Homo sapiens: one gene and its partners. The protein of the gene in region 2 interacts with the protein of the main gene of each other region in a biochemical or structural test. Each region holds a gene or a part of one and is shown on either strand. Other genes may lie near its edges.

Evidence for each region.
Region 1: of the proteins of PARP1 (region 2) and SUPT16H, one has a biochemical effect on the other in vitro, tested with the Homo sapiens proteins (one study listed by BioGRID).
Region 3: the proteins of PARP1 (region 2) and OVOL2 form a complex in vitro, tested with the Homo sapiens proteins (one study listed by BioGRID).
Region 4: the proteins of PARP1 (region 2) and LIG3 form a complex in vitro, tested with the Homo sapiens proteins (one study listed by BioGRID).
Region 5: of the proteins of PARP1 (region 2) and SP1, one has a biochemical effect on the other in vitro, tested with the Homo sapiens proteins (one study listed by BioGRID).
Region 6: the proteins of PARP1 (region 2) and NCAPD2 interact in far-western blotting, tested with the Homo sapiens proteins (one study listed by BioGRID).
Region 7: the proteins of PARP1 (region 2) and ETS1 form a complex in vitro, tested with the Homo sapiens proteins (one study listed by BioGRID).

Annotation. Positions count from the first base shown.
Region 1 is NC_000014.9:21,359,826-21,364,063, forward strand, and holds part of SUPT16H (FACT complex subunit SPT16), read right to left. Parts: intron 3,679-4,238; coding exon 3,613-3,678; intron 3,504-3,612; coding exon 3,408-3,503; intron 3,325-3,407; coding exon 3,209-3,324; intron 3,123-3,208; coding exon 2,969-3,122; intron 2,500-2,968; coding exon 2,372-2,499; intron 1,389-2,371; coding exon 1,253-1,388; intron 1,148-1,252; coding exon 1,021-1,147; intron 709-1,020; coding exon 590-708; intron 1-589. UniProt on the Homo sapiens protein: Component of the FACT complex, a general chromatin factor that acts to reorganize nucleosomes. The FACT complex is involved in multiple processes that require DNA as a template such as mRNA elongation, DNA replication and DNA repair.
Region 2 is NC_000001.11:226,380,122-226,384,359, reverse strand, and holds part of PARP1 (poly [ADP-ribose] polymerase 1), read left to right. Parts: intron 1-1,176; coding exon 1,177-1,324; intron 1,325-3,151; coding exon 3,152-3,292; intron 3,293-4,195; coding exon 4,196-4,238. UniProt on the Homo sapiens protein: Poly-ADP-ribosyltransferase that mediates poly-ADP-ribosylation of proteins and plays a key role in DNA repair.
Region 3 is NC_000020.11:18,040,490-18,044,727, reverse strand, and holds part of OVOL2 (transcription factor Ovo-like 2), read left to right. Parts: intron 1-3,004; coding exon 3,005-3,194; intron 3,195-4,238. UniProt on the Homo sapiens protein: Zinc-finger transcription repressor factor. Plays a critical role in maintaining the identity of epithelial lineages by suppressing epithelial-to mesenchymal transition (EMT) mainly through the repression of ZEB1, an EMT inducer.
Region 4 is NC_000017.11:34,983,121-34,987,358, forward strand, and holds part of LIG3 (DNA ligase 3 isoform alpha precursor), read left to right. Parts: coding exon 1-432; intron 433-2,867; coding exon 2,868-3,011; intron 3,012-4,238. UniProt on the Homo sapiens protein: Isoform 3 functions as a heterodimer with DNA-repair protein XRCC1 in the nucleus and can correct defective DNA strand-break repair and sister chromatid exchange following treatment with ionizing radiation and alkylating agents.
Region 5 is NC_000012.12:53,403,989-53,408,226, forward strand, and holds part of SP1 (transcription factor Sp1), read left to right. Parts: intron 1-2,596; coding exon 2,597-2,765; intron 2,766-4,238. UniProt on the Homo sapiens protein: Transcription factor that can activate or repress transcription in response to physiological and pathological stimuli.
Region 6 is NC_000012.12:6,510,668-6,514,905, forward strand, and holds part of NCAPD2 (condensin complex subunit 1), read left to right. Parts: coding exon 1-143; intron 144-442; coding exon 443-585; intron 586-3,597; coding exon 3,598-3,725; intron 3,726-3,796; coding exon 3,797-3,920; intron 3,921-4,105; coding exon 4,106-4,238. UniProt on the Homo sapiens protein: Regulatory subunit of the condensin complex, a complex required for conversion of interphase chromatin into mitotic-like condense chromosomes.
Region 7 is NC_000011.10:128,486,550-128,490,787, reverse strand, and holds part of ETS1 (protein C-ets-1), read left to right. Parts: intron 1-211; coding exon 212-331; intron 332-1,297; coding exon 1,298-1,498; intron 1,499-4,238. UniProt on the Homo sapiens protein: Transcription factor. Directly controls the expression of cytokine and chemokine genes in a wide variety of different cellular contexts. May control the differentiation, survival and proliferation of lymphoid cells.

The DNA of each region.
Region 1 (4,238 bases), on a different chromosome or scaffold from region 2:
TTGGTAACAAATCTTATCTAAAGCAAAACTTCATTTTAGAAAGAGAAATCTGGAGATCTCGTATAAAACATTTGCTGGCCACCATATAACACACCAAAGGAACAAACATGCTTATGAGCCCCTTCTAGATGCCAGGCCTTGTGGCCTTTAGAGGCATTATTTTATTTAATCCTCTTAAATGTTCTTAAGTGAGAGGTGATTTTTTCATCACTTTTTTGTTTTTTGTTTTTCACACGCTGTCGCCCAGGCTGGAGTACAATGGCGCGATCTCGGCTCACTGCAACTTCCGCCTCCCAGGTTCAAGCAATTTTCCTGCCTCGGCCTCTCAAGTAGCTGGGATTACAGGCGCTGGCCACTACGCCTGGCTAATTTTTGTATTTTTAGTAGAGACGGGGTTTCATCATGTTGGTCAGGCTGGTGTCGAACTCCCGACCTCAGGTGATCCACCCACCTCGGCCTCCCAAAGTGCTGGGATTGTGGGCATGAGCCACCGCGCCCAGCCCTTTCATCACTATTTTATAGGAAAGAAGCTGAGTGAAATGAAGTGTCTTGCCCAAGAGCTGACAGCTAGTTAAGTAGAAAGGTATACCTTGAGGTGAAAGTGCAAGACAATAATCATTTCTCCATCACAGGGCTGGAACAAAGCATGCTTAATATTATTGTACAAAATATCCACTTTGTCTCCTCGAACAGATGTGAAGCGGAAGCCTGGGGAAAAGAATGAAGAAATGTCAAGCAGTATAATTAAGTTAGGCCAAAAGGCACTGCAACTCTTCTGGCTGATTTGCACAGGGTCAGAGGAAACACCAACAGCTGTATAGAGCTTTCCTTTCCTTCTGGCCACACAGCAGTGTAAGTAGATTCCTCCCAGCATTTCCTTGTCATACTTTATTAGCACCATGCTTTAACCAACTGAGCTAACCGGCGGATGGCTCTTTGTCATATTTTATTATCTGATCTGTCATTCCTAACAAATGTGCCCTGAAGAGAAAGCCTAGGTACAGGAGAGATCATCCATACCATTGACATGGGCCTCCAGTGAGCCTTGCATCCTCTTTTGGGCAATATTTGGGCGAATGTATAGATCTTTCAGTTTCGGATTACTCCGGTTTAGATTGATCACCAGTGAGTCTTGTTTTACAATCCCCTAAGCAAGAAGAAAATTAATGTGAATTGTCACATATCCTTACAAGTCTCCAAAAAATACATGTCCTTCTTTGTGTAAGAATGTTTTGCCTGTGTTCAGGCTCACCTCCTTCTCTTTCTCTTCAGCTTCTCGAGTTTTATAACGTTTCTGTACTTCTTTAATAATTCGGAAAGCATTCTGAAGGTTCAAGGCTGGTACTGTCTGTTCTCCGGGTGCCTTAATATTTGATGCTCGGTATGTACTGCAGAAAAGCAACAGCATTTATAGACATTTCTTTTTCAGGCCAGGGAAATTGTACTGATTTACTTTATCTTCTAAGCAGCTTAATCTCTACTTTGCTTTTTTTTTTTTTTTTTTTTTTTGAGACAGGGTGTGCCTCTGTCACCCAGGCTGGAGTGCAGTGGCCCAATCTTAGCTCACTGCAACCTTCGCCTCCTGGGTTCAAGCCATCCTCCCACCTCAGCCTTCCAAGTACCTGGGATTACAGGTACACACCACCATGCCCGGCTAGTTTTTGTATTTTTAGCAGATACAGGGTTTTGCCATGTTGACCAGGCTGGTCTTGAACTCCTGGCCTCATGTAATCTGCCTGCCTCTGCCTCCCGAAGTGCTGGGATTACAGGCGTGAGCCACCATGCATGCCCATTCCTTCTTTTTTCATTTTTCAAATCTGGTATAACATCCCCAAATTATCCCATTTCACACCATGAAATCATAGAATCCAATGTGGCACCAGTTTTCTTATTTGAAGATTCTACTGCAATATATGTTTATTACTTTTAACACTTATTTTCATAATTATTTTTTTTTTGAGACAAGGTCTCGTTCTGTTGCTCAGGCTGGATGGAGTACAGGCAAGATCAGGGCTCACTGCAGCCTCAACCTCCCAGGCTCAAGGAATCCTCTCACCTCAGCCTCCACAGTAGCTGGATGACGGGTGCACACCACCACCCCTGGTTAATTATTTTTTAGAAGAGACAAGGTCTCACTATATTACCCAGGCTCAAAATATGTTTAGTAAATATATAGTATCTTCAAGAAGATTCTAAATTGGGATCCATCCTGAAAATAGTACAAAGTCAAGAAGGCGATCCGAAACAAGTACCAATGAGGAAGGCTTTGACATTTACTAGGTAGGGAAAATGTAGCACAGACAATGAAATGTTTCTGAGAGTACCACTCCAGACAAGATGAATCTGGGTATGACTTTTCTTGGGGACTCACATTTCCTTGACAAAAGTCGCTTCAGGGTTAGGAAAGATGTTGCCTTCATTCCTGCCCAGAGCACTGCCTGGGCAATAAAAGTTGATTCGCAAGTAAGTATAATCTCCTTCCACGGACATACTTATATTCTGTTCAAAGGAAAAGCATAAAAAGTAAACAGATTTCTTTCCTAGAGATTAGTAGTTACAGAGATGTTAAAATTAAGTTAGGAGTTACAAATTGACCGCTCTTAACCTTAATCTAAATCTAATAAATTTACATAATTTATCTTTTTAATAACGAAGTATCCTTTTCCCAAAAAAATCTCTGAATTCTCAAAGTACCTTGTACCATGAATACAACTAAAAGTTAAACAATGATTAAACGAAGTTGAAAGAAAGATAGGCAAATTATGTTTCTAGACTAGTTTAGCTTTCTACTAAGTGAAAAAAACTGAAAGAGGAAGGAGAATGACAAGACAAGAGGGATGTCAGTAACTGAACAGAGTCTGAAGGAGTCAAAAGTGGGAGACATGATGAATGCAGATTATTTATGGCAAATACAATTACTATTTTAAGCAACAGTTTGGATGAAACCTGATGCACTGAATGTCAGTACCTTGATTGTGGCAATGTGAAACGGTGTTGCAATGCCAAACACGGGCATTATTACAGTCTCATATTTCTTATCGATGTAGATCTTCATTTCCCGAATATGTGGTTCCTTAGGCATCAGAGATGGGTTTTTATAGGACACATTAGACTTGCGAGCTCTGGAGTGGGATAAAAAAACAACTGAGAAATTTCTGCAGTCCCACAGAACCCTCAGATGATCTCACTGCTCAGTGAAAACTCTTACTTCTGAATCTGCTGTTCTCCCTTTTGTTCAGTCAATCGCCTCTTTGCTTCTTCATTGAGTTGAGCCGCTAGTTCTTTCTGATGTGCTCTTCGCTTCTCTTCTGCAGTCATTTCATTCTGGTGAATGGAAAATCCAATTTATCACAACACGTGAGCCATATGACAGCCGAGATCAATGTAATTTAAAATAGTAAACTTACTCTTGTTCTTTCTGTAAGTAATGCTGCCCGAGAACCTCTTCCCAAAAGGTCCTCTGCCTCATCTTTCTCCTCCTCCTCTTCTTCCTCATCTTCATTCTATGGAAAAAGTCATAATCAAAAAATGAAATTTTAATTATTTTAGCCAATATTATTTAACTTCTTTATATCCTAAACTTCCTATACTACTTATCTATCTTCTTCCTACCTTTAGGAAAATCCCCACATTCTTCACTTTCTTCTTCACAGAAGTGAGAACAGTAGCTGGGCCATCCTAGAATTAAAAGGAGAATGAAGACACATTATTTAAAAGAGGCAATTTCATTTTCTAACCTAGTAAACGGCTGGGCAATGCTTTGAATCTTTTGGACACTAAAATGTTTGACAATGAATAAATATAGTTTTTATCCTTCTAACCTCTAACCTCTCGTCAGGAGCTACAATTTTTTTTCTTTTTCTTTTTTTTGAGACAGAGTTTCACTCTTGTCAACGAGGCTGGAGTGCAATGGCGTGACCTCAGCTCACTGCAACCTCCGCCTCCCGGATTCAAGTGATTCTCCTGCCTCAGCCTCCCGAGTAGCTGGAATTACAGACGCGCACCACCACACCTGGCTAATTTTTGTATTTTTAGTAGGGCCGGGGATTCACCATGTTGGTCAGGCTGGTCTCAAACTCCTGACCTCAGGTGATCCACCTGCCTTGGCCTCCGAAAGTGCTAGGATTACACGCGTGAGCCACTGCGCCCAGCCAAGAGCTACAATTTGGGAGGCAACATTGGGTAATCACTAATACAGGTTTGATTTGAAGCCTGGCTCAGTTGCTTTCTACCTCAGT
Region 2 (4,238 bases):
TGTAGCTTGTCCTCAGAGCCCTCTGTGATGCGGCTTTGCTGGCCTTCTGCAGCCTTTTTCTGCCACCCTTTTCTTCCTTCTCACATACCCCTCTCCCCACCCCACCGCCAGTCTTGCTCATTCTTTTTAGGAGTACCTAGCAATAGGGCGCCTAGCCAGGGCACCCCACATGCCACCGTGTGCTACTCAGATGGCTGTGCTTAGGCAGTCCCCTGTGTTTTCAGCTCCCAGTGGGCTTAGCAGATCACTGCCTCCAAGTGCATGCTAGCATTCCCTGTCTCACATCACCTTGGCACACCTCTGGCATAGCTTAGCTCCTTTGTTAAAGTTCACCTTCCTATAGCTGATGCTCAGTCACGAATGAGATACTTTCTGAAGAGCAGAAACTGTCTTTTTAACCAGACTATGGTTGGTAGCACATATTAGGTGGTCTGTGTGTGTCGGAAGCAATCTGTGACCTCTTGTATCTAACTGACATCCTGAACACAGGCATAGCTGGAAAGGGCAGTTTCTTGATTGGATGAAGACCTGGGAGCACAGTATCTTTCCCTGAGCTTCATGTATTTGATACTTATTGAGTGACCATTTAGAGCAAGGCCCCTTGTAAATCAGTCAGAGTGAAGAGTGAATTGTGCTGATGGAAGAATTTATAGTGAATACCATAGGGCTCCCTGCATTCATTTTTCCTTCTTCTAAAAAGGAAAGCAAATACTGTGATTTCCTTTTGGGTAATAATCTCCCAGTGTGTATATAGTATTCGGGGTCTTGGAGTTCTGGAGTAGGCATGTGATCCCACAGAGGCCTATTAACTCTCGAAGGGAGCAACTCAGGAATGAGGCCAGGGAGGTTGTAGTCATACAGCAGTTCCAGTGGTGGTTCCCTGACCGAATTGGCCACTGGTTTCTGTTTTTGTTTTTTTTAGGGAAAGATTTTTCTCTTAAAGCAGCCACAATATTAGCCCTATTATAAATGTAAAAGTACCGGAAATAAGTACTGTAGCAGCAATAATACTGTCTTTCATCCTTAAAGCCTCACATTTTTCTATTTTTTGTTACTCTTTATTGTAAGAAGAAAAAAAGAGATTATTTGATTTGGACAAGCCAAATCCTCTTTGGTCTATGGGGTGGTTACCTCAAGGGAGAGCTGGCTTCTTAACTAAAACTTAATATTTTTTAGGAATTCCGAGAAATCTCTTACCTCAAGAAATTGAAGGTTAAAAAACAGGACCGTATATTCCCCCCAGAAACCAGCGCCTCCGTGGCGGCCACGCCTCCGCCCTCCACAGCCTCGGCTCCTGCTGCTGTGAACTCCTCTGCTTCAGCAGGTACAGCATTTGGGACCCCGGTCTTAGAGCTGCTTTGCAGGAATTGTTTGCCCACTACTTGCTGGTGGTGTGGAGCTGGTGAAGAAAGTATCCGTCAAGGGTCTCTCTTTGCTGACCCCACCATGGGGAAGCCTTGCCCTGCAGGGGATAGGCCTCTTCTCTTGGCTTGTTACACCCCTGACCACAGCAAGGTGGGAGAGTGTTAAGAACATAGCATCGGCTGGGAGCAGTGACTCACACCTGTAATCCCAGCACTTTAGGAAGCTGAGGCAAAAGAATTGCTGAGGCCAGGAGTTTGAGACCAACCTGGGCAATGTAGTGAGACCCCATCTCTACAAAAATGTTTAAAATTAATCCGAGTATGTGCCTTTAGCCCTAGATACTCAGGAGGCTGAGGCGGAGGATCCCTTGAGCCTGGGAGGTCAAGGCTGCACTGAGCTATGATCACGCTAATGCACACCAGCTTGGGCGATGGAGTGATACCCTATCTCTAAAAATAAAATAAACATTGTAGAAGAACAAGCAGCTCTTACTCTGGGAGGCTAGGAGAGGGGCTCCTAAGAAAGGCTAGGTCGACAGCCTTACCTGGAGTTGGGCGCAGGGTCTCCTGCCTGACTGCACTGCAGAGGAGCATCCCAGGCCTCACTCTCCAGGCTGCCCTGCGCCCACCAGTCATCCGGGCCCTGGTGTGATGCTCAAGTCTCTGTTGTATGCAGAGGGAGTTACTAATCAGCACTAGTGAGAAATGCCCCAAGCCAACCAAGACAGTGAGAGCAACGTATTTTTTTGGCAGGAGAAGTGACCCGCTGCTTGTTTACTCAGAGACATGTGGCATAGTCTATTGGTGAAGGTCACAGTTTGGTGGGTGGAGGATGAGGGTTCCTTCCTTGAACATAAACCTGTTATTGACTTCCTTTTCATATCCTGAGAGGGGACCAGTGGTCACTGCAGTGTGTGCTGGTGGTCATCCCGAGTCCACTGTGCTGCTGGCAGCCTGGGTCCAGGTGCCCACATGAAGGGCCAGTTGGGGGCTGGCATTCTGACCCCTCCATGGAGGGTTCCCTCCTCTGCTTTCCCCTGACTTGCAGTTCAGCATGAGTCAATAATTTTGTTCTCTGGAGACCTCAGCAGTTTCAGTTAAACTGTCAGTGTTTCCTAGTTGTTTGCCCTCACAGGGAAGGCAGGAAGGACTTTTCCTTGCAGCTACTCCAGTTCTGGACGGGTGTCACCTGCACTGTGTTGTTTGCTGTGAACAGAAGGCACACCCCTGTCCAGGCCTTTCTGGCCTGGGTCAGTGCACACCAGGCTGCTGCTTTTCTCCTAGAATCAGTTAGCTCAGCTCCGTGTGATTGTGCTGGCCACTGCTTTGAGGGACTATCATGGACATGTCTCATTTTAAAATGGGGTTAATTCATAAGAATTGCAGTTTGTTTGGGAGAATAACAGAAGGAATTGGGGGTTCATGTGACCTTACCCCTCTTCCCATCCGACTCCAGCCTCCTGGTCCCTCGTCCGCAGATGCAGCCTTCCTAGCCTGACCTTGGCGCGGACCTGGGGTAACCCGCAGCTGCCTGGCTCACGCCGCGAGGCTGGCCTGGCCATGGAGTGGCATTTTGTGGCTTGCTCCCTGCCCAGTCCTTTCTGTGCTGAGGGACATCTGTAGGTACTCAGGTGGCAGCTTGCTGTCCCGTCCTGTTTTCTCGCGAGTGTATTTTCATAGGCTTTTCCCAGGAGCTCGCTGCTTGGCTCACCTGCTCCTCCACCTCCCCTTACTGGGGAGCAGCACCAGAGCTGGCCTTGCTGAATGATTCTCTCCTTTCATCCCAGATAAGCCATTATCCAACATGAAGATCCTGACTCTCGGGAAGCTGTCCCGGAACAAGGATGAAGTGAAGGCCATGATTGAGAAACTCGGGGGGAAGTTGACGGGGACGGCCAACAAGGCTTCCCTGTGCATCAGCACCAAAAGTGAGTTGAATCTGAATTTGTGCAACAGGGACAATGCTTCTGTATCTTATGATTGTGATGACGAGTAAGTGAGGAAGAGTCGAACACAGCGCTGAAAAACTGGATCTTAACATCATCATCGCTGTGGTTCTTTATGAAGGGAAACCAGTATTTGCTCTCAGTGTTGCTGCTTTGTACTGTAGATTCACATGCATTGCGTGTTCTCAACTAAAGACGGTAAGCTACTATAGGTTGAGTCTCCCTAGTCCCGAAGCCCAAACAAATTGCCTCAAAATTCAACACTTTTTGAGTGACAACATGATGCTCAAAGGAAATGTTCATTGGAGCATTTCAGATTTCAGAGTTTTGGATTAGATGCTCAGTCAGTAAATATGAAGCAAGTATTTTAAGGTCTGAAAGGTTTCTGGTCTCAAGCATCTCGGATAAGGGAAGCTGCTCAACCTGTATTCTCATCACTTCGCACTGCTCTGTAAGATGTGCATAGATATCTGCCAAAACAGAAGTTCAAGGTTCAAGTATGTTTGGAAAAGGTAGGGTAAAACAAAGCTAAACAGGTTTCTGTGTGGGTTTATTATGCTGATTACCACTGTAGGTCTTCAGGAACCAGAGAAATAGAATACAGGATTTCCCATACATATTTGACATCAGGGTGTTTTTTCTTTGGAGTGTTTGTTAACATCGTGCTGTAGAATGGTTTGGAGAAGGCTGCCCTGGCTCATCATACCTTAGAAAAGGGGGAATGTTGCTGATAAAAACACTCTTGGGAGCATTAGACTTGGAAGCAAAGGAGAGCTGTGAATGCTGAGGGTTTGGAAGTACACACTAAATATAACTGTAGTAATTTGAAGTTTCAGTTTTGTTTTAAACTTGTATTTTGGTTTTTTTTCCTTTCAATTTGAACAGAGGAGGTGGAAAAGATGAATAAGAAGATGGAGGAAGTAAAGGA
Region 3 (4,238 bases), on a different chromosome or scaffold from region 2:
CCCCCTCGGACCCCTGGGCCTCTCAGATGTCAATGGCTGTTGACTTGCCTGCACCCCCACTAGACTCGGCAGCTTCCTAGGGACTGGGGATTAAGCCATCTCTAACTGTATTGCCTCCAGCTCTAAGCACAGGGCTTGTCACAGATCAGGGACTTATCAATGTTAGCTGGGGCAAATTAAGCTCCAAGCAAAGGAAAATGAACTAGTGGAGGAGGCTGACTGGAATACCCTGTTCTGGGGTCTTGTGCCTCCCTTGAGACTCTCTGCATCCTGCCACCTGCTCCCAGCTGCCGGTCAGCACATACTGATTGTGCACTGGCCCTAGACTAGGCTTGGAGCAGTGGGTAGGGAGGCAGGAATGGGACCGAATGCTTGCTGACCATCCTCAAAGTGTTGAGTTGAGAAAACAAGATGAACTGTGTGCATAGTGAAACTTGGGAATGAGATGGAATATAGCATGACTTCTCAGGGCTAGTGTGGCGTGTGCATCAGCTGCAGTGGCATCTCCTGGGCTCTGGTTAGAAATGCAGCACATCAGACCCTACCAGACCTCCTGAATCAGAACCTGCATTTTAACAAGACCCCAGGGGAGGCATAGGTATGCTGGAGTCTGAGAGGCACTGGTTTAAGTGGGACAGTGAGCAGTTTAGTCATGGGCTGCAGTATTTGGAGAAGGCTGCATCGGCAAGGGAGCAACTGAGCTCCCTTGAGTCCTGGGAGGGCAATACCCAGGGTGGATGAAAGAGGAGAGTATTTGAAGCTGGGAGAGTGTGGAGCCAGGAGAGGACCAGTCTTCTTGCTAGTGATGAATTTTGGCAGAGCAATGGGATCCATCTTCTAAAGGATCTGATTTGGTAACATTCACATCACATGTTCAAAAGTTACCAAATCAGATACTAAAATTGAACACATCATTTTTATCACCCAGATGTAGATTCTATGTTCTTCCTTAGCAGCAGCGAAGGTGGTAGAAAGCACTGGGCAGGGAGTCCAGACCCAGGTCTGGTTGTGGTTTTGCTGATAACAAAGCTGTGGGTACTGACCAAGCCGCTTTACAAAATGATAATTTTATGCGTTTATGATTTCGTGGGTCAAGACAAAAGCCATAGGCATGGCTCTGCTAGGCAGTTCTACTCTGGGTAGTGTTAGTGGGGGCGACTCATTCAGCTGGTGGCAGCCCTGAGTTGGGATGGAGAGTCCAATCAGGCTTTATTCATATCTGGCTCCTCCGTGCTCCCCCATGTGGCCTTTGGCTGTCCACATGGCTAGCTTGGGCTTCCTCACAGCATGGTAGCCTCAGACTTCTTATGTGGCAGCTGGCTTATAAGAGGGAAGAAATGGAAGCTACAAGGTCTCTTAAAACCTGGAACTGACACATCTTCATTGCATTCTGTTGATCCAACTGGTCATAAGCCCTGCCCAGATTCAAGGGGAGGGAAAACAGTCTCCATCTCTTGATAAATGGAGCAGGATGCAGGCACAAGGAGGACAGAATTGAGTGTGGCTCTCTTTGGGTACTGTCTGTAATATAACATACCAGGCTCCATGATGTCATGAGGACCCAGACTCCTTTCTGCTCCTCCCACCTCATGGTCCAAGGTGACTGTTGGTGCTCTAGTCAGCAGGAAGGAGTGGAGGAGGAAGAAGGCACCGTTTGCTCCCCTTCAAGGAGATTTCTATTTCATTGGCCAGGTAGTCCATGGCCATGCTGTCTTAGTCCATTTTGCGTTGCCATAAAGAATACCTGAGACTGGCTAATTTATAGAGAAGAGGTTTATGGCTCATGGTTCTGCAGGCTATACAAGAAGCATAGGGCTGGTGTCTTCTTCTGGTGAGGCCCTCAGGAAGCTTCCACTCATAGAAGGCGGAAGGGGAACAAGCGTGTCATATGGTGAGGGAGGAAGCAAGAGAGAGGGGAGGAAGTGCCGGGCTCTTTTTTTTTTTTTTTTTTTGAGACGGAGTTTTGCTCTTGTTGCCCAGGCTGGATGCAATAGCCCGATCTTGGCTCACCGCAACCTTTGCCTCCTGGGTTCAAGTGATTCTCCTGCCTCTGCTTCCCGAGTAGCTGGGATTACAGGCATGCACCACCACGCCTGGCTAATTTTGTATTTTTAGTAGAGATGGGATTTCTCCACGTTGGTCAGGCTGATCTCAAATTCCCGACCTCAGGTGATCCACCCACCTCAGCCTCCCAAAGTGCTGGGATTACAGGCATGAGACGCCGCGCCTGGCCACCAGGCTCTTTTAAACAGCCAGCTCTCCCATGAACTGATGAGAGTAAGAACTCGCTCTTTACTACGGGGACGGCACCAGGCCATTCATGAGGGATCTGCCCCTGTAACCTCCCACGAGGCCCCACCTCCAACACTGGGGATCACATTTCAACAAGACATTTGGAGGGGCCTAACATTCATACCCCATCACATGCCTGTAGGATGCTGTAAGACAGTATGCCCAGCTAGAAGTCAGAGGTTTGTTCTAAGGAAGAAGGGGAGAATAAAAAGTGGGAGCAACTGGCTGGGTGCGGTGGCTCATGCCTGTAATCCCAGCACTTTGGGAGGCTGAGGCGGATGGATCACTTGAGGTCAGGAGTTTGAGACCAGCCTGGCCAACATGGTGAAACCCTGTCTCTACTGAAAATACAAAAATTAGCCAGGCGTGGTTGTATGTGCCCCTGTAGTCCCAGCTACTTGGGAAGCTGAGGCAGGAGAATTACCTGAACCCAAGAGGTGGAGGTTACGGTGAGCTGAGATCGAGCCACTGCACTCCAGCCTGGGCAAAAAAAGTAAGACTCCATCTCAAAAAGAAAAAAAAAAAAAAAAAAGGGTGGGAGGAACTGCCAGTTGTTACTTCACCTTTCCCAAAGCCAAAACCTGCTTGAAAATTTTAGGGGCAGAAGCCGCAGACAGGGCAGCCTCAAGACACAGGGAGGTGGGTCTCTTGAGTGAGCCTACTGGATGTGCCTGCCTGCCCGGGGACCCTCATGGCCTCTCTCTGCCCCCAGTTCACCACAGGCACGTGCAGCGACTCGGTGGTTCACAGCTGTGACCTGTGTGGCAAGGGCTTCCGTCTGCAGCGCATGCTGAACCGTCACCTCAAGTGCCACAACCAGGTGAAAAGACACCTGTGCACCTTCTGCGGCAAGGGCTTCAACGACACCTTCGACCTGAAGAGGCACGTCCGCACACACACAGGTGAGCGGGGAGTGCGTGCTTTGTTCTCTGTTTTGTTATTCTGGCCAAGAGCTCCTGTTTCTTTCCCACCAAAAAACCAGGTTGAGACCGTGGAACAATGTTGTGTTTCTAGAAAGATCACAAGATGCGGATCACGAGGTTAGGAGTTTGAGACCAGCCTGGCCAACATAGTGAAACCCTGTCTCTACTAAAAATACAAAAAAATTAGCTGGGCGTGGTGGTGGCGCCTGTAATCCCAGCTACTTGGGAGGCTGAGGCAGGAGAATCGCTTGAACCTGGGAGGCGGAGGTTGCAGTGAGCCAAGATCATGCCACTGCACTCCAGCCTGGGTGACATTGCAAGACTCCATCTCAAAAAAAGAAAAAAAAAGAAAGATCACAAGATGATGGGGCGTTAGGGCCAGCCCTTCTGGGTTCACCTCCTGACTCTGCCACCTGCCAGCTGTGTCACCTTGGGCCAGGTGAGCCACCTTTGGTAGCCTGCCTTTCACCCCTGTAAAATGGAGATATCGATGTGAGTTCTAGCGAGGCTCAAAACGGATCCCTGGCTGGAAGTATTCTGAGAATCATGATGCATGGCACACACGCGGGGCCTGCCACAGCTCAGCCCCTTGGTTCTGGCTGCTGGAATGTGGTTCTTGTGGCCCCACAATGAGTATTTTATACTTCTCTCTTGGGACATAAGCCTGTCTCTGGATAGCATCGTGTTCCTCCTGAGACACAAAAAGGAGCTCATTGCCTTTAGAGCTGACCCGAGCCTCGTACTGGAGCCTGGCAGGCAAGCATCTTCCTCTTCTGGGACCTGCCTCAGTTTTCTGACTTAGGAAGTGGGAATCCAGGTTCTCCCCAGTTCCAGTTCTTCACAGAGTCCTGGGGGTGCCCTTGGCCTCTTGTCTCGGCCTCACTGCTTCTATCTGAGAAACACCTGGCCTCCATGCTTTCCCGCCTGAGCTCCATTGTCCACACCTCTGCCAGAGTGATCCCTCCAGGAGAATTCTAAGGACTCTACTTCCCTGCTAAGAAATCTCCAACTCTGAACAGAATG
Region 4 (4,238 bases), on a different chromosome or scaffold from region 2:
CAGAAACAGATCTGCTTCATGGACATCCCCTCTTCCTGAGAAGAAAGCCTGTTCTATCATTCCAGGGAAGCCATCTAAGATCACGTGCCACCTACCTTGTTTTCTTGCCAGGGTTGCATGTGGGACTCTGCAGTGGCCCCTGTGAGATGGCTGAGCAACGGTTCTGTGTGGACTATGCCAAGCGTGGCACAGCTGGCTGCAAAAAATGCAAGGAAAAGATTGTGAAGGGCGTATGCCGAATTGGCAAAGTGGTGCCCAATCCCTTCTCAGAGTCTGGGGGTGATATGAAAGAGTGGTACCACATTAAATGCATGTTTGAGAAACTAGAGCGGGCCCGGGCCACCACAAAAAAAATCGAGGACCTCACAGAGCTGGAAGGCTGGGAAGAGCTGGAAGATAATGAGAAGGAACAGATAACCCAGCACATTGCAGGTAAGGTAGAGAACACTGCTTTCTCATCTTACTGGTGCTGAGAGAAAAAGGGATAAGGAGTTCAACTGCTTTCTTTCTCTTTTTTTTAACTTTGCTCTTTTAGAGATGGGGTCTCACTCTGTTGCCTAGGCCAGTGTTTAATGTTGCATTCGTAGCTCACTGCAGCTTTGCACTGCTGGACTCAGGTCATCCTGACTCAGCCTCCCAAGTAGTTGGGATTACAGGCGCATGCCACCATGCCCAGCCTTTAACGTTTTATTTGGAAATAATTTTAAACTCACTGAAGTGTTGGAAGATTAAAAATAGTACAAAGAACATTCATATTCCTTTTACCCATATTTACCTATTAACATTTTACTCTATTTGCTTTATCATATTTGTTCATGTGCTGTCTCTCTCTACATACATACACACGTGTGCGTGCACTCACTTTAAACCATTTGAGAATAAGTTGCATACATCATGGCCCTTTAAAATTCTTCAGTGTATATACCTTAAGAATAGGATATATGACCCTTATGCGACTATAATATAGCTATCATCTTCAGAAAATTTGTCCTTGATGTAATACTTAAATCTACCATCTGTATACTATTTTGTCAATGGATTGAGTCATACCTTCAGTAGCCTTTTCCTGCAGTATAGGATCCCAGTCTAGGATCATATCAGGTGTTGCATTTAGTTGTCATGTTTCTTTGGCCTCCTTTAATCTGAAATATTTCCATAGTCTCTCTTTTATGACATTGATATTTTGGAAGAATAGAGTACTGATTACTATCCTCTTTTACTTTTTTTCTTGTAGCATATAATTCATTACTGTACTTAACTAATTTGATACTTAATTGTCCCATATTTGGCCAATTAGGAACCCCTTTACACTGTCCTCTGTGTCCTGTATACCTTCATTAACTTTTTTTAATGTACTTCTTTACTCTTGAGCATAGCAAGATGCTTTTAGTCTTATCCCGTATGTATCCTTCCCCAGCCCTGAAATTGGTAATTTCTCTGGGGATTCCTGTTAGTGGGAAATGCCCCTGTTAAAGAGTAAAACCTGGATACTATGTGTCCACATTGTCATGGGGTATCTGTTTCTTCTTTTTTTTTTTTTTGAGAGTCTCACTCTGACCCAGGCTGGAGTGTAGTGGCACTATCCTGTTAGTGGGAAATGGTATTAAAGAGTAAAACCCGGATACTATGTGAACACATTGTCATGGGGTATCTGTTTCTTCTTTTTTTTTTTTTTGAGACAGAGTCTCACTCTGTGACCCAGGCTGGAGTGCAGTGGCACTGTCTTAGCTCACTGCAACCTCTGCCTTCCAGGTTCAAGCAATTGTCCTGTCTCAGCCTCCCAAGTAGCTGGGACTACAGGCACTTGACACCACACCCAGCTAATTTTTGTGTTTTTAGTAGAGACAGGGTTTCACCATGTTGGTCCAGCTGGTGTTGAACCCCTGACTTCAAGTGATCCACCCACCTTGGCCTCCCAAAGTGCTGGGATTACAGGCCTGAGCGCCCAGCCATGGCATGTCTGTTTCTAAGCCCTTTCAGCAGACAGAGCTAGAAAATATGTGCGTGTATATGCATGTAAAATTCATACCTATATATGGCTATATATAACATGTTTGCATGTACATGCATATTTACATATGCATATTTTAGAAATTTTATGCCAATACCCCCAAATCCAGTTAGTCCTCTTTGACCTTCAGTGTCTGTAAAATAATGTTCATATCTTCAACTTAGTTCTGGTCACCATAGGAAGACAGTTAACAATGGCTCTAAAAATGGGTATCTGTCCTTGTTCTTTGAAAGGAAAAAAGACTTCCGGGAAAGAAAACTGTGCTTCCCATATACTTTATTCTCAGGCTCCCCATCCCACCTTGCACTGCCTTAGCTATTGGCCTCGGCCTTTGTTACTTCTTGACCCATCTCTCATTTGGAGGAAGAGAAATACAGGTAGAGTTCATGACTCAGATAACTAAGCATCTGGAAATTTTCCTTCCTATGCTAGGTTGACATGCTCTGTGATCCTCATTTACTTTTTGTTCATCTCTAAATTGAAGCTAATTCTGTGGGGTTGGGGGTTCCCTAAGTTTTATCCATCAAACTATGATTTCTGATTTCCCCCAAATTGTTATTTCTGGAGACTTACATATGGGATAAGAAGTGGAGAATGTTGATGAAAATTTAAGGTACTAATAGAGATAAATGGTAACTGGATCTTTTGTCTCCAGCATATCCTTCCCTTCTGTCCCCACAATACCCTATTACCTACTACCCCCACTCAAAAAATACCAGCCACCAGCCAGCCTTGGGCTAGTGCTAGGGTAGTGACTTAACAAGCAAGGCCCTAGGAGCAGTTGATAGATTCTTTGGATGTTTTTTTCAGAGATCGTTCACTGAAGGATATTTTATACTCTTTTGGGATCCTACAGATCTGTCTTCTAAGGCAGCAGGTACACCAAAGAAGAAAGCTGTTGTCCAGGCTAAGTTGACAACCACTGGCCAGGTGACTTCTCCAGTGAAAGGCGCCTCATTTGTCACCAGTACCAATCCCCGGAAATTTTCTGGCTTTTCAGGTAAGATAGGTTAGGGCTACTTTAGCTGTTATAGTGCTGCTTTTATTTTGTATTCTACCTAGGATTCTGGCTAAAGAGTGAAAATTCTGTGCTATCTCATCTCATTAATAATTTGCTTCTGTCTGAGCAGAGACTGGTAATGGCTAATTCTAAGCCTTCCGCTTGGTTTTTGTTTGTTTGTTTGTTTTTTGGTTTTGGGGGTTTTTTTGAGATGAAATCTTGCTCTGTCATCCAAGCTGGAGTGCAGTGGTGCATTCTCAGCTCACTGCAACCTCCGCCTCCTGGGTTCAAGCGATTCTCCCACCTCAGCCTCCCAAGTAGCTGGGATTACAGGCACCTGCCACCATGCCTGACTAATTTTTGTATTTTTAGTAGAGATGGGGTTTCGCCACGTTGGCCAGGCTGGTCTCAAACTCCTGACCTCAGGTGATCCACCTGCCCCAGCTTCCCAAAGTGCTGGGATTGCAGGCGTGAGCCACTGCGCTCGGCCAGCATTCCACTTGTATAGCATTTCTTTGTATACTTTAACCTCTATCGCAGCGGAAAGATTTGTTTTGTCAAGACTTTTTCCCCTTGAAATAGTTACCTGGGCCAGACAGAGATTATTAGAACCTGTCTTTTACTTCCTTGTGTTTTGATAATGAAAGAATTTTGAGAAATTGTTTCCCTGAATATGCCTAGAAATGAAAGTATGAAAGAAGGGAGATGTCATGCATGGATCTCCCTTCTTGATTCTTAAAACTGTTTATTCAAAACACTGGAACTTCATGGAACACAAAGGAAGGAAAAAAAGATCTGAAGGATATTGCTATTTGTTGGGAGGCAGTACAGCCTAGGGATGAAGCTTGCAGACTTTGGAATCAGTGAGCTCTGGGTTCAAATCCCATCTCCTAAAGGGGAGGACTGTGGCTATTATTTGTAGGACAGATGAACAATAAAGTGTTAAGTTTCCTGTTCTCTTCACTAAAATACACACATGCACACACGTGTATACACACATATATAGTTTCTTTTATATAAAATATAGAATTACTATTTCATAGACAGGGATTCAGGAAGACTTTGCTGGGGCATGTGGTATAGATAGGAGTTGAGAAGATCAGGATCATTTATTGGCCTTACGTAAACAGACAGCATTGGACTAGGGGCTTTTATATATGTAGTTTCATTTCTTCTTCAGTTAACCCTAGACAGTACTTTTATTTAGGAAGTACTTTTTATTAGGCC
Region 5 (4,238 bases), on a different chromosome or scaffold from region 2:
GTGAAACCCCGTCTCTACTAAAAATACAAAAAGTTAGCCGGGCGTGGTGACGGGCGCCTGTAGTCCCACCTACTAGGGAGGCTGAGGCAGGAGAATGGCGTGAACCTGGGAGGCGGAGCTTGCAGTGAGCCGAGATCGCGCTACTGCACTTCAGCCTGGGCGACAGAGCGAGACTCCGTCTCAAAAAAAAAAAAAGGAAAGAAGTCTTGAGAAGAATATTATCTGCCACTTTATAAGATATTACTTTTGCGAAGAATATTATCAGCCGGGTGCGGTGACTCACGCCTGTAATCAGCACTTTGGGAGGCCAAGGCGGGCGGATCACAAGGTCAGGAGTTCGAGACCAGCCTGTCGAAGATGGTGAAACCCCATCTCTACTAAAAAAATACAACAAAATACAAAAAGTAGCCAGGGGTGGTGGTGGGTGCCTGTAATCCCAGCTACTCAGGAGGCTGAGGCAGGAAAATCGCTTGAACCCAGGAGGCGGAGGTTGCAATGAGTCAAGATTGTGCCATTGCACTCCAGCCTGGGCAACAAGAGTGTAACTCAGTCTCAAAAAAAAAAAAAAAAGAATATTATCTGTCACTTTTTACCAGTGGCCTAGAGCTGTGTTTGAAAATGTCAAATGTGACCAACTGAGTCATGATGAGAGTCTAAAGCATTTTAGCATACACTGTTTATTTATATATATTTTTTTGAGTTGGAATCTTGTTCTGTTGGCCAGGCTGGTGTGCAGTGATGTGATCATAGCTCACTGTAGCCTTAAACACCTTGGCTCAAGCAATCTTCCTCCCACCTTAGCCTCCTGAGTAGCTGGGACCATAGGCGCATGCCACCATGCCCAGCTAATTATTATTATTATTTGGCGACGAAGTCTCGCTCTGTCGGCCAGGCTGGAGTGCAGTGGCACAGTCTCGGCTCACTGCAACCTCTGCCTCCTGGGTTCAAGCAATTCCTGTCTCAGCCTCCCGAATAGCTAGGATTACAAGCGTACTCCACCATACCCAGCTGATTTTTTTTGTTTTGTTTTTGTATTTTTAGTAGAGATGGGGGTTTTACCATGTTGGCCAGGCTGGTATTGAACTCCTGACCTCAAGTGATCCAACCACCTCGGCCTCCCAAAGTGCTGGGATTACAGGCGTGAGCTACCATGCCCAGCCTATTATTTATTTTATAGACAGAGTGTCCCTATGTTGCCCAGGCTGGTCTTGAACTCCTAATCTCAAGCAGTTCTCCTGCCTCAGCCTTCCAAAGTGCTGAGGTTACAGGCAGAACCACATGTAAATATATGGGCATTGCTGGTTCAAATTAGATGTACATTTAAATATTTTCAAACTGGCCTTCAAAAAGTTGTATTAATTTATCACTATTTGTGTATGAAAATGTCTCTTTCCGGCTGGACATGGTGGCTCATGCCCACCCGTAATCCCAGCACTTTCGAAGGCCGAGGCGGGTGGATCACCTAAGGTCAGGAGTTCGAGACAGCCTGACCAACATGGTGAAACCCCATCTCTCCTAAAAATACAAAAAAGTTAGCCAGTCATGGTGGCATATACCTGTAGTTGCAGCTACTTGGGAGGCTAAGGCAGGAGAATCACTTGAACCCAGGAGATGGAGGTTGCAGTGAGCCCAGATAATGCCACTGTACTCCAGAGCCAGCGAGACTCTGTCTCAAAAAAAGAAAGGAAAGAAAAGAGAGAGAGAGAGAAGGAAGGAGGGAAGGAGGGAGGGAGGGAAGGAAGAGAGAGAGGGAGGGTCTGTTTTCCTGTACCCTTACCAATGCCGTATGTTATTAGGGTTTCAACTTTTGGTAATCTGATAGGTGAAAAATTACAAATGCGTTATAAGTGGAGTTGCATTTTAAAAACTATGATCGGGGGAGGGATAGCATTAGGAGATATACCTAATGCTAAATGACGAGTTAATGGGTGCAGCACATCAGTATGGCACATGTATACATATGTAACCTACACGTTGTGCACATGTACCGTAAAACTTAAAGTATAATAATAAAAAAAAACAACTATGAGATTTGATCAGATTTTTACGTATTTATTGGCTCTTGGTATTTTCTTTCTTTTTTTTTTTTTTTTTTTTTTTTGAGACAGAGTCTTGCTCTGTCACCCAGGCTGGAGTACAATGGTGCAGTCTCGCTAACTGCAACCTCCGCCTCCCGGGTTCAAGCAATTCTCCTGGCTCAGCCTTCCAAGGAGCTGGGATTACAGGCATGCGTACCATTCCCAGCTAATTTTGTATTTTTAGTAGAGACGGGATTTCTCCGTATTGGTCAGACTGGTCTTGAACTCCTGACCTCAGGTGATCCGCCCACCTCGGCCTCCCAAAGTGATGGAATTACAGGCGTGAACCACTGCGCCCAGCCACTCTTGGTATTTTCAATGATGATTCTTGAGATTTCAGTGAGTCTTCAGGTGTCAGTGAATGGAATGGCTAAACATAAAAAGGCTTCAAAACTTGTGATACTGTGAATGTAGGATGTCAGTTCAAAAGAAATGATGTTGTGACTGTAGGGTATCACTGAGATGCCAGTGATAACCTGCCCATGTCACATGTTGACCCTTTTCTCTCTTAATTTCAGGTGATCATGGAGCTCAGCTTGGTCTCCATGGGGCTGGTGGTGATGGAATACATGATGACACAGCAGGTGGAGAGGAAGGAGAAAACAGCCCAGATGCCCAACCCCAAGCCGGTCGGAGGACCCGGCGGGAAGCATGCACCTGCCCCTACTGTAAAGACAGTGAAGGAAGGTGAGTTGACCCAGCCAGTTTCTTACAAATATAAAGAAAAATTAATAGATTTGGAGATAAGAGGAAGAAGATTAATTTTTTTTTTTTTTGAGACCGAGTCTGACTCTGTTGCCCAGGCTGGAGTGCAGTGGCGCAATCTTGGCTCACTGCAAACTCCACCTCCTGGGTTCACGCCATTCTCCTGCCTCAGCCTCCCGAGTAGCTGGGACTACAGGCACCTGTCACCACACCCAGCTATCTTTTTTTATTTTTAGTAGAGACAGGGTTTCACTGTGTTACCCAGGATGGTCTCGATCTCCTGACCTCGTGATCTGCCCGCCTCGGCCTCCTAAAGTGCTGGGATTACCAGCGTGAGCCACCATGCCCGGCAAAGGTTAATTTTTTTTTTTAGGATTTAAGACTCAGAGCTGGATGCATATAATCCCAGCACTTTGGGAGGCCAAGATAGGAGGATCACTTCAGCCCAGGAGTTTGAGACCAGCCTCAGCAAGAAAGCGAGAGCCGATCTCTACAAAAATTTAAAAATTATGTGGGAATATTTTACTGGCCATAAAAAGAGAAAATGAAAAAAAAAAAAATTTTTTTTTTTTCTGAGACAAAGTCAGTCTGTGTTTCCCAGGCTGGAGTGCAGTGGCACATTCTTGGCTCACTGCAACCTCCACCTCCTGGGTTCAAGCAATTCTGCCTCAGTCTCCCGAGTAGCTGGGACTACAGGCGTGTGCCACCACGCCCGGCTAAGTTTTTCTATTTTTAATAGAGACAGGGTTTCACCTTGTTAGCCAGGATGGTCTTCATCTCCTGACTGTGTGATCTGCCCACCTCGGCCTCCCAAAGTGCTGGGATTACAGACGTGAGCCACTGCACCTGGCCAAAAAAATTTATTTATTTATTTTTTTGTTTTGAGATGGAGTCTTGCTCTGTTGCCCAGGCTGGAGTGCAGTGGCACAATCTTGGCTCACTGCAGGCTCCGCCCCCTGGGTTCACGCCATTCTCCTGCCTCAGCCTCCCTAGTAGCTGGGACTACAGGTGCCCGCCACCTCGCCCAGCTAATTTTTTGTATTTTTAGTAGAGACGGGGTTTCACCGTGTTAGCCAGGGTGGTCTCGATCTCCTGACCTTGTGATCCGCCTGCCTTGGCCTCCCAAAGTGCTGGGATTACAGGCATGAGCCATGGGGGCGCCCGGCCTTTTTTTTTTTTTAAGACAGATCTTCATCCGGGTACGGTGGCTCACGCCTGTAATCCCAGCACTTTGGGAGGCCAAGGCGGGCGGATCACCTGAGGTCAGGAGTACAAGACCAGCCTGGCCAACATGGTGAAACCCCATCTCTACTAAAAGTACAAAAATTAACCGGCGTGGTGTCAGGTGCCTGTAATCCCAGCTACTTGGGAGGTTGAGGTAGGAGAATTGCTCGAACTTGGGAGGTGGAGGTTGCAGTGAACCGAGATCGTGCCGTTACACTCTAGCCTGGGCGA
Region 6 (4,238 bases), on a different chromosome or scaffold from region 2:
ATGATACAACTTTGAGTGGATCAGATAGAAACGCCCATCTAAATGCCCTCAAAATGAACTGTTATGCTCTGATACGTCTCCTGGAATCCTTTGAGACCATGGCCAGCCAGACAAACCTTGTGGACCTGGACCTTGGTGGGAAGGTAATTTGGAGTTTTGGGCTCACGTTATATGGGGTCTGGGGAGATAGGGGAATAGATGGAAAAGAAGGGAATCCAATGATCCACAAATCCTTTCTGTCCTCATTGAGAATTTAGGAGAAAGAACTCAAAAGTGTCACACGTTTTCTTCCTGGACAAGTAGCGCTGTGGAACTTGTAATATTTCTTCCGTATTACCTTCTATGTTGTCTTGGTACTAGATTGTTTGGGCACTCAGACTGACAGATCTTGACCCACTTTTTTCCCTTATTTTTTCCTCAATGTATACATGATCCTTTTTAGGGTAAGAAAGCTCGGACCAAGGCAGCCCATGGCTTTGACTGGGAAGAAGAGAGGCAACCAATTCTTCAGCTTTTAACACAGCTACTTCAGTTGGACATCCGTCACCTGTGGAACCACTCAATAATTGAAGAAGAATTTGTCAGGTGGGTAGGGAGGATGGCTACAGATAATACTGAGCTGTGAGAGTGAGGCTCTGTTGATAGATATGCCGTTTTTTTGGTTTTGTTTTTTTTTTGTGGGGGGACAGAGCTTCACTCTTGTCGCCCAGGCTGGAGCGCAGTGGTTCAATCTCGGCTCACTGCAGCCTCTACCTCCTGGGTTCAAGCAATTTTCCTGCCTCAGCCTCCCGAGTAGCTGGGATTACAGGTGCCCGCCACCACAAGCTGATTTTTGTATTTTTAATAGAGACGGGTTTTGCCATGTTGGCCAGGCTGGTCTTGAACTCCTAACCTCAGGTGATCTCCCTGCTTTGGCCCCCCAAAGTGCTGGGATTACAGGTGTGAGCCACCACGCCCAGCCAGAAGTCTATTTTTAAAATAAGTAAAATAAGTTTGATGGAAGAAGGTTGTGATTTTAAATCAGCTACTCTAGGCCCGGTGCGGTGGCTCACGCCTATAATCCCAGCACTCTGGGAGGCCGAGGCGAGTGGATCACCTGAGGTCAGGAGTTCAAGACCGGCCTGGCCAACATGGTGAAACCTTGTCTCTACTAAAAAAATATGAAAATTAGCTGTGCATGGTGGTGTGTGCCTGTAATGCCAGCTACTTGGGAGGCTGAGGCAGGAGCATCACTTGAACCTGGGAGAGGGAGGTTGCAATGAGCTGAGATCGCACCATTGCACTCCATCCTGGGCGACAAGAGCAAAATCCCGTCTCAAAAAAAATAGATAGGGCCAGGCGCGGTGGCTCACGCCTGTAATCCCAGCACTTTGGGAGGCTGAGGCAGGTGGATCACGAGGTCAGGAGATCGAGACCACGGTGAAACCCCGTCTCTACTAAAAATACAAAAAAAAATTAGCCGGGCATGGTGGCGGGCGCCTCTAGTCCCAGCTACTCAGGAGGCTGAGGCAGGAGAATGGCGTGAACCCGGGAGGTGGAGCTTGCAGTGACCTGAGATCGCGCCACTGCACTCCAGCCTGGGCAACAGAGCAAGACTCCATCTCCAAAAAAAAAAAAAAAAAAAAAGATAGATAGATAGATAGACAGACAGACAAACAGACAGACAAGCTACTCTAGTAAGACTTCTTTGAGATGGTGACATTTGAGCAAAGACCCAGAGGAGGTGACTGAGAGCTATGAGAATATGTGGAGGAATAGCAAGGGCAGGGAAAAGGAATAGCATATGCAAAGACCTTGAGGAGGGAGCATGTCCAGCACGTACGAGCAATAGCAAGGAGGCCAGAGAGCTGACAGCTGAGAGCAGGTACGAGGGTTAGGCCGTGAGGCCATGGGAGCAGTGGGGAGCCAGACCGCAGGTTCTTGTGGGCCATCATGGTGACTTTGGCATTTCCTCAGAATGAAGTGGAGCCACTGGGGAGCCACAAGCAGGGAGGTGAGGTGACCTGACTTGTACTTCAACAGGGCCATCCTAGCTGTTGTATTGAAATCGACTATGGAGGGAAAGGGGAAGCAAGAGACCAGTTAAGAGGCTGTTCCAATAACTCAAGCAAGAGATGATGGTCTCTTAGACCAAGGCGTGGCAGTGGAGATGGGGAGAAGTAGTTGGATTCTATACTTTTTCCTTAAGGTAGAGCTTACAGGATTTGCTAACAGACTGGGTGTGAGGTGGGAGGGAGAGTTCAGTCAAGGATGACTCTCCCGGGTTTTGGTCTGAGCATTTGGAAGACTGGAGTTAATGGTAACTGAGATAGGGAGAAGGCTGTGAATAGGTGTTTTGGGAGGAAGATCAGATGTTCTGTTTTGGACATACAAAGTTTGAGGTGTTTATTAGCCACGTAAAGTCAGATTTGGACGTTGAATATATAGATCTGGAGTTCAGGAGAGAGGTCTGAGCTAGAGATAACACATTTGGGAATATAATAGTATTCAGAGCCGTGAGACTGAATGAAATTACCAAATCAGTAAGTGTAGCTAAAAGAGCAGGAATCCAAGGACTGGTACCCTAGGGCACTCCAGCATTAAGAGTGAGGATGCCGGGTGCATGGCTCACGCCTATAATCCTAGCACTTTGGGAGGCTGAGGCAGGAGGATCACTTGAGCCCAGGAGTTTGAGATCAGCCTGGACAACATAGTGAAACTGTGTCTCTACAAAAAATAGAAAAATTAGCTGGGCATGGTGGAGGCTGAGGTGGGAGCATCACCTGAGCTATGAGGAGGTCAAGGATGCAGTGAGCCGTGATTGCACCACTGCACTCCAGCCTGGGCAACAGAGGCAGACCCTGTCTCAAAAAAAAGAGTCTGAGGAGGAACTAGCCAAAGAAACTGAGAAAGGAGTCTTGTTCTTGTGTCCTGGAAGCGAGATAAAGCATATATTTCAAGGAGAAAGTGAGTGATTAACTGTATCACATGCAGCTGTGAAAGACCACTTGAGATGCAGATTGAATCAGTCGTTATATTTAGGAATGAGAAGTCATTGGTGACTTTGTCTTTTTTTTTTTTTTTTTTGTGATGGAGTCTCGCAATGTCGCCTGGCCTGGAGTGCAGTGGCATGATATCAGCTCACTGCAACCTCCACCTCCCAGGTTCAAGGGATTCTCCTGCCTCAGCCTCCCAAGTAGCTGGGATTACAGGCGCCCACCACCACACCCAGCTAATTTTTTGTATTTTTAGTAGAGACAGGGTTTCACTATGTTGGCCAAGCTGGTCTTGAATGCCTGACCTCGTGATCCACCTGCCTCGGCCTCCCAAAGTGCTGGGATTACAGGCATGAGCCACCACACCCGGCCAACTCTATCATATTTTTATGATATATTTAGGTTCTTTGTCAGCATCACAACTGGTTGAAAGTTGGTAATCTTGAAGGAAGGAGTACCTAACTGGGGTCAGCAAAGCAAAGCAACTTGTTATAGAAAGTAATGGCTAGAATAAAGAAAACCCTGACTTTGGGAGCAGTAGGGATAGAATGAATGAGGCAGGGCTCTGATACAATTGGATTCAGACAGCTGCTTTCATCATCTCAAACTCTTCCTTTCTCAGTTTGGTTACTGGCTGTTGCTACCGCCTTCTGGAGAATCCCACCATTAATCACCAGAAGAACCGCCCCACTCGGGAAGCCATAACACACCTGCTTGGTGTAGCCTTGACCCGTTATAACCATATGCTCAGTAAGTTACCAGTCGCTTTGCCCCGCCTTTTTTGTATTGCCCATAATTTCTCATGTTTAATGCTTCCACAGGTGCTACAGTGAAGATCATCCAGATGCTGCAGCACTTTGAACACCTGGCACCTGTACTGGTTGCAGCCGTGAGTCTATGGGCAACTGACTATGGAATGAAGAGCATAGTGGGAGAGATTGTAAGGTGACTCTTCCTTCTCGAAGTTTCTCATGCTTATTTTCCTTGGGGAGGGAATAAAGAAAGATTGGAAATACATTATCTGTGCAACAGTAGATTCCTTCAGATATTAGATACCTGTCTTACCTTCCCTTACTGGGAACTGAATAATTGATCTATGTTGCTATGGCTGTGTTTTCTTCCCTGTGTAGAGAGATTGGACAAAAGTGTCCCCAAGAGCTGAGTCGAGACCCTTCAGGGACAAAGGGCTTTGCAGCATTCCTGACAGAACTAGCAGAACGTGTCCCAGCTATCCTGATGTCCAGCATGTGCATTTTGCTAGAT
Region 7 (4,238 bases), on a different chromosome or scaffold from region 2:
GAGATCACGCCACTGCACTCCAGCCTGGGTGACAGAGCAAGACTCCGTCTCAAAAAAAAAAAAAAAAAAAAAATTGCCTGCTCTGGTGCTCTGGTGAGGATGCTAGCACAGTTGTTTCTCAGCTTGCCTTCTTACAGCCCATTTGTAATGTTTTATGATTGGTTCATTACCTATGTAATTTTTGTTATTCATATGCAATTTTTTCATGCAGATATGGAATGTGCAGATGTCCCACTATTAACTCCAAGCAGCAAAGAAATGATGTCTCAAGCATTAAAAGCTACTTTCAGTGGTTTCACTAAAGAACAGCAACGACTGGGGATCCCAAAAGGTATGGTTTTGTAGTTGGAAAAAGAGTGGTTGGGGTCAGACCCTTTGGGAAGACACATTTTCTCACCTGGAGTGTGTGAGGCAGACGTTACACTAACCACATTGGAGTCAGCAGCTATGGGCCATGGCTGCCATCTGTTAGGACAATCATGACACACATACTGAGGCTGCCCCGTCTCCTGGGCTTGTTCTTGCCATCTTGGTATGAAGACAGTGGTCCTCAAACTTGCCTGCACACTAGAATCACTTCTGGATCTCTTGGAACAGCTCTGATGTTGGGCATTACACCTGCTGTCATCTGAACTTCTAAGTGTCATTGGTGGGTGTAGCCAGGTTAAACCTCAGGTCATGTATGAAGATTGCATGTTATCAATACTACAGTGCTACTCAAGCTATAGCTTATGATAAGTACAGACTTTGCAGAGTATCTGGTATAATACAGGCACCTAATAATGTTATTACCAAGTGCCATTTGAATGAATGACTACTACTAATTGCTACAATTGTTACCACTATAATTGGCTAAGATAAAAAATAATCGAGAATAATAGTCTCAAGTATATTATAGTTAAGAGCAGGGAGAGGCATGAGCAATCTCTTGTTATTATTGCTATTAAAGAAGCCATTTGTTCTGTTCAGGGCTTTAAAAAAGTCCAATGGGAATAAGGCAGTGAGAGAGGAGATTCATGGAAATCTTTGCCTGCAAGGACAGAGAATACTCATGTGGTACTTTTTGGCTGGCAGTAGTGACCTCCTAGCTGGTGAAATAGAGAAGGCGGAGATGTTGAATATGGAGGGGAGGGTTATGGAAGGCACTCAATGATGTGCAGGCTAGGCTGATGCTTCCTCATTCGATGAATAAAGATAGCATTCTCAGCTAAATTCAGCTCCTTCAGTGTCCTCTCTGAGGCTTGGATAGGAGTTAAAAGCCCGACCTGCTGGATCTTCATCTGATCTCTTTCCTCAGACCCCCGGCAGTGGACAGAAACCCATGTTCGGGACTGGGTGATGTGGGCTGTGAATGAATTCAGCCTGAAAGGTGTAGACTTCCAGAAGTTCTGTATGAATGGAGCAGCCCTCTGCGCCCTGGGTAAAGACTGCTTTCTCGAGCTGGCCCCAGACTTTGTTGGGGACATCTTATGGGAACATCTAGAGATCCTGCAGAAAGGTAAATATGTGGAAACAGAGAGAGGTGGAGGTTATGTGGGGTTGCTGTGAGAGTAGGTAGGGGGCTCACCCAATGGTGGGACGTCAATGCCTTTATCTGTGGGTGTCCTACTGTAGGACGTATGTGGGAATGTGCCTAGTACACTGCTCAGCATACAGCAGGTACTCTTAGATGAGTGTAATTTCTTTTTCTTCTACATATTGGGGGTTCAGATATTAATCTTCAGCAAGATTGTACCACTGAAGCTTCTTGGATTGCAACATTCTAATCCAGGTCCTTATCTCAAACCCATGCCCTGGTTGAACAAGCAGTGCCCACAGCCAACCCAAGAATAGTTTTTGTTTTTGTTTTTGTTTTTGTTTTCTGCAATCTTAATACACACTGCCTTGATGCATGCCCCATAATACCTCATCACATCCCGGGAAAGCTTAGCGTCTGAGACCGTATTAATAAGACAGATTTCTCTGCCCACTAACTGAATTGGAATTGCAGTAGTGCATCATACCTTTTACATCTGGAGCAGGAACTGGGGTTATATCAGGACGCTATGTTGCAACCTTATAATGACATGGCCTCCCCTAACAGCCTCTTCCAACCTTTTTGGACCAAGTGACTCATGTACCACAGTCCTGGCTGAGTATAGAAACAGCAGCAGGCGGCAAACTTGGGTGTTTTTGTGCTTATTTTTTTGAATTTTTTCTTAAAATAAATTGCAGTTACCAGCAGTCAGCAGTGCCCTTCAGCTGACTGTAAGCCTAGAAGCCCATTGCCCTCTCTAACCCAGGCCCATCCTTTCCCTGTGGTCATCAGCTCTAACCCTTGGCACAGACGCTGGGGGAGGGGAGCAAAACTCAGGATTAGCACTTTTACCCCGCATTATACCTTCCTTTGGTTAAGAATATATTCCATTCTGCAGTGCTCAAGAGAGACCCAAACTAGATTTCTCTGTGCTCAAAAATGTTATCTTTATTCCTTCTTTTCACTTTCTGTTGAAAAATAAGACATAAAGGAATACAGGAAAGAACTAGGTGAGTCTTTCTGTGGCTGCTTTTACCGAGGATGGCAGGCAGTTGCAAAGCACCGGCATGTTCTCCATGCACAGACACCCACTCATAGGTGTTGACATGAGCGACCTGTTTATAGAGGGAAACGATACGGCAGGCTCCTAACAGATCTGATTTGACTGTTGACTTCTAAACACAATAGCAGATTCAATCAGACTGTGTAACCCAGTATATTCTACTAAGAGGCTGTTTTCCTCCATTTATCAAAATGGAGCTGCTAGGTGTTTTGGGCTATCTAAGCCCATCTCTGATTGTAGTTACAATTAATATCTCTATCATGTCTCCCTGTTTCCAAAGTGCTTTCAAATACATTTTCTCTTTGGATTATCAAAATAACTGTGAGATAGTAAGGACAAGTCCTATTATTGTCCTTGTCTGTAAAATGAAGCTCAGGGTAGGCGATTTCTTCAGTATCACTCATCTCCTTTTCTTCATTTTATTTCAACTTTCAGTATATTTTTATTTTATTTTATTTTATTTATTTTTTGAGACAGAGTCTTGCTCTGTCACCCAGGCTGGAGTGCAGTCGCGCGATGTCGGCTCACTGCAACCTTCGCCTCCTAGGTTCAAGCGATTCTCCTGCCTCACCCTCCTGAGTAGCTGGGACTACAGGCGCATGCCACCATGCCTAGCTAATTTTTGTATTTTTAGTAGAGTCAGGGCTTCACCGTGTTGGCCAGGATGGTCTTGATCCCTTGACCTCGTGATCTGCCCACCTTGGCCTCCCAAAACACTGGGATTACAGGCGTGAGCCACCGCGCCTGCCCTCAATATATTTTTATTTAACTTAAAATTTAACATCCCATCCTGTGCTTTTTGTATAATAATGTGGATTCACAGGGGCCTTCTGGCCGCTAAGACTGGTTTGGCCTCACTTAGGGTAAAGGAATAATGTAAGAAAATTTAAGAGAATTAGGATATAAGTCAGTATGTTTGAGAGCAAAAGTCATATCTTCCCACCCAATATTCTGTTGAGAGAGGCAGAAAGAATTCTCCCTCTTCAGGTTCAGTTACTTGAAGAGATGAGCATGATGTTTGTGCTGAGGCTACAGCTTTTGTTCTGTAATTAAAGCAACACAGCAGCAAAAGAACATAGCTGTTTGGGGTGGGGTGGAAGGTGAAAGGTACGGGGATGTTTCAATCTGATAAACTGCTAAAGCAAAGTTTAATCATTTTATCTCAACTGGGAACTGTTTTTCTGTGCAGGCATAAACTTGTTTTCCCATCAGACTTTGCTCCTAACAAGCTATCAAATACCTGAGGAAAAACCCAAACCCATACTCTATGTCAGATTCTTATGGTGAAATATAATCAGACTACTCCATACAAGAATCGGAGCCATGGCATTTGTTCCAGGGTAATTAGAGGATCCCAGGCTTACTGCAGGGTCGTTCAGAGCTTTCTGTCCGCAGGTGCACTTCGTCTCCCTTCCTCTCCTTTTCCTAGGGGAGTTGGCATCTGGGCAGGAGCTTGACTGGGTTGCTCTTCTCTCCCTTGACACAAGCGCAGTCGCATTTCACCAAATGGAGTCACCTTACCAGTGTCCTGCTTCTTGTCTGGGCCTGAACTTGAAACCTGAGGGCAATGGGAAAAATACAAAACAAAAACCAGACATCTGTTAGAGGAAATGGAGAACGTAAAATCTATGGCCTAAAGACTGCAATATATTTTTGAGA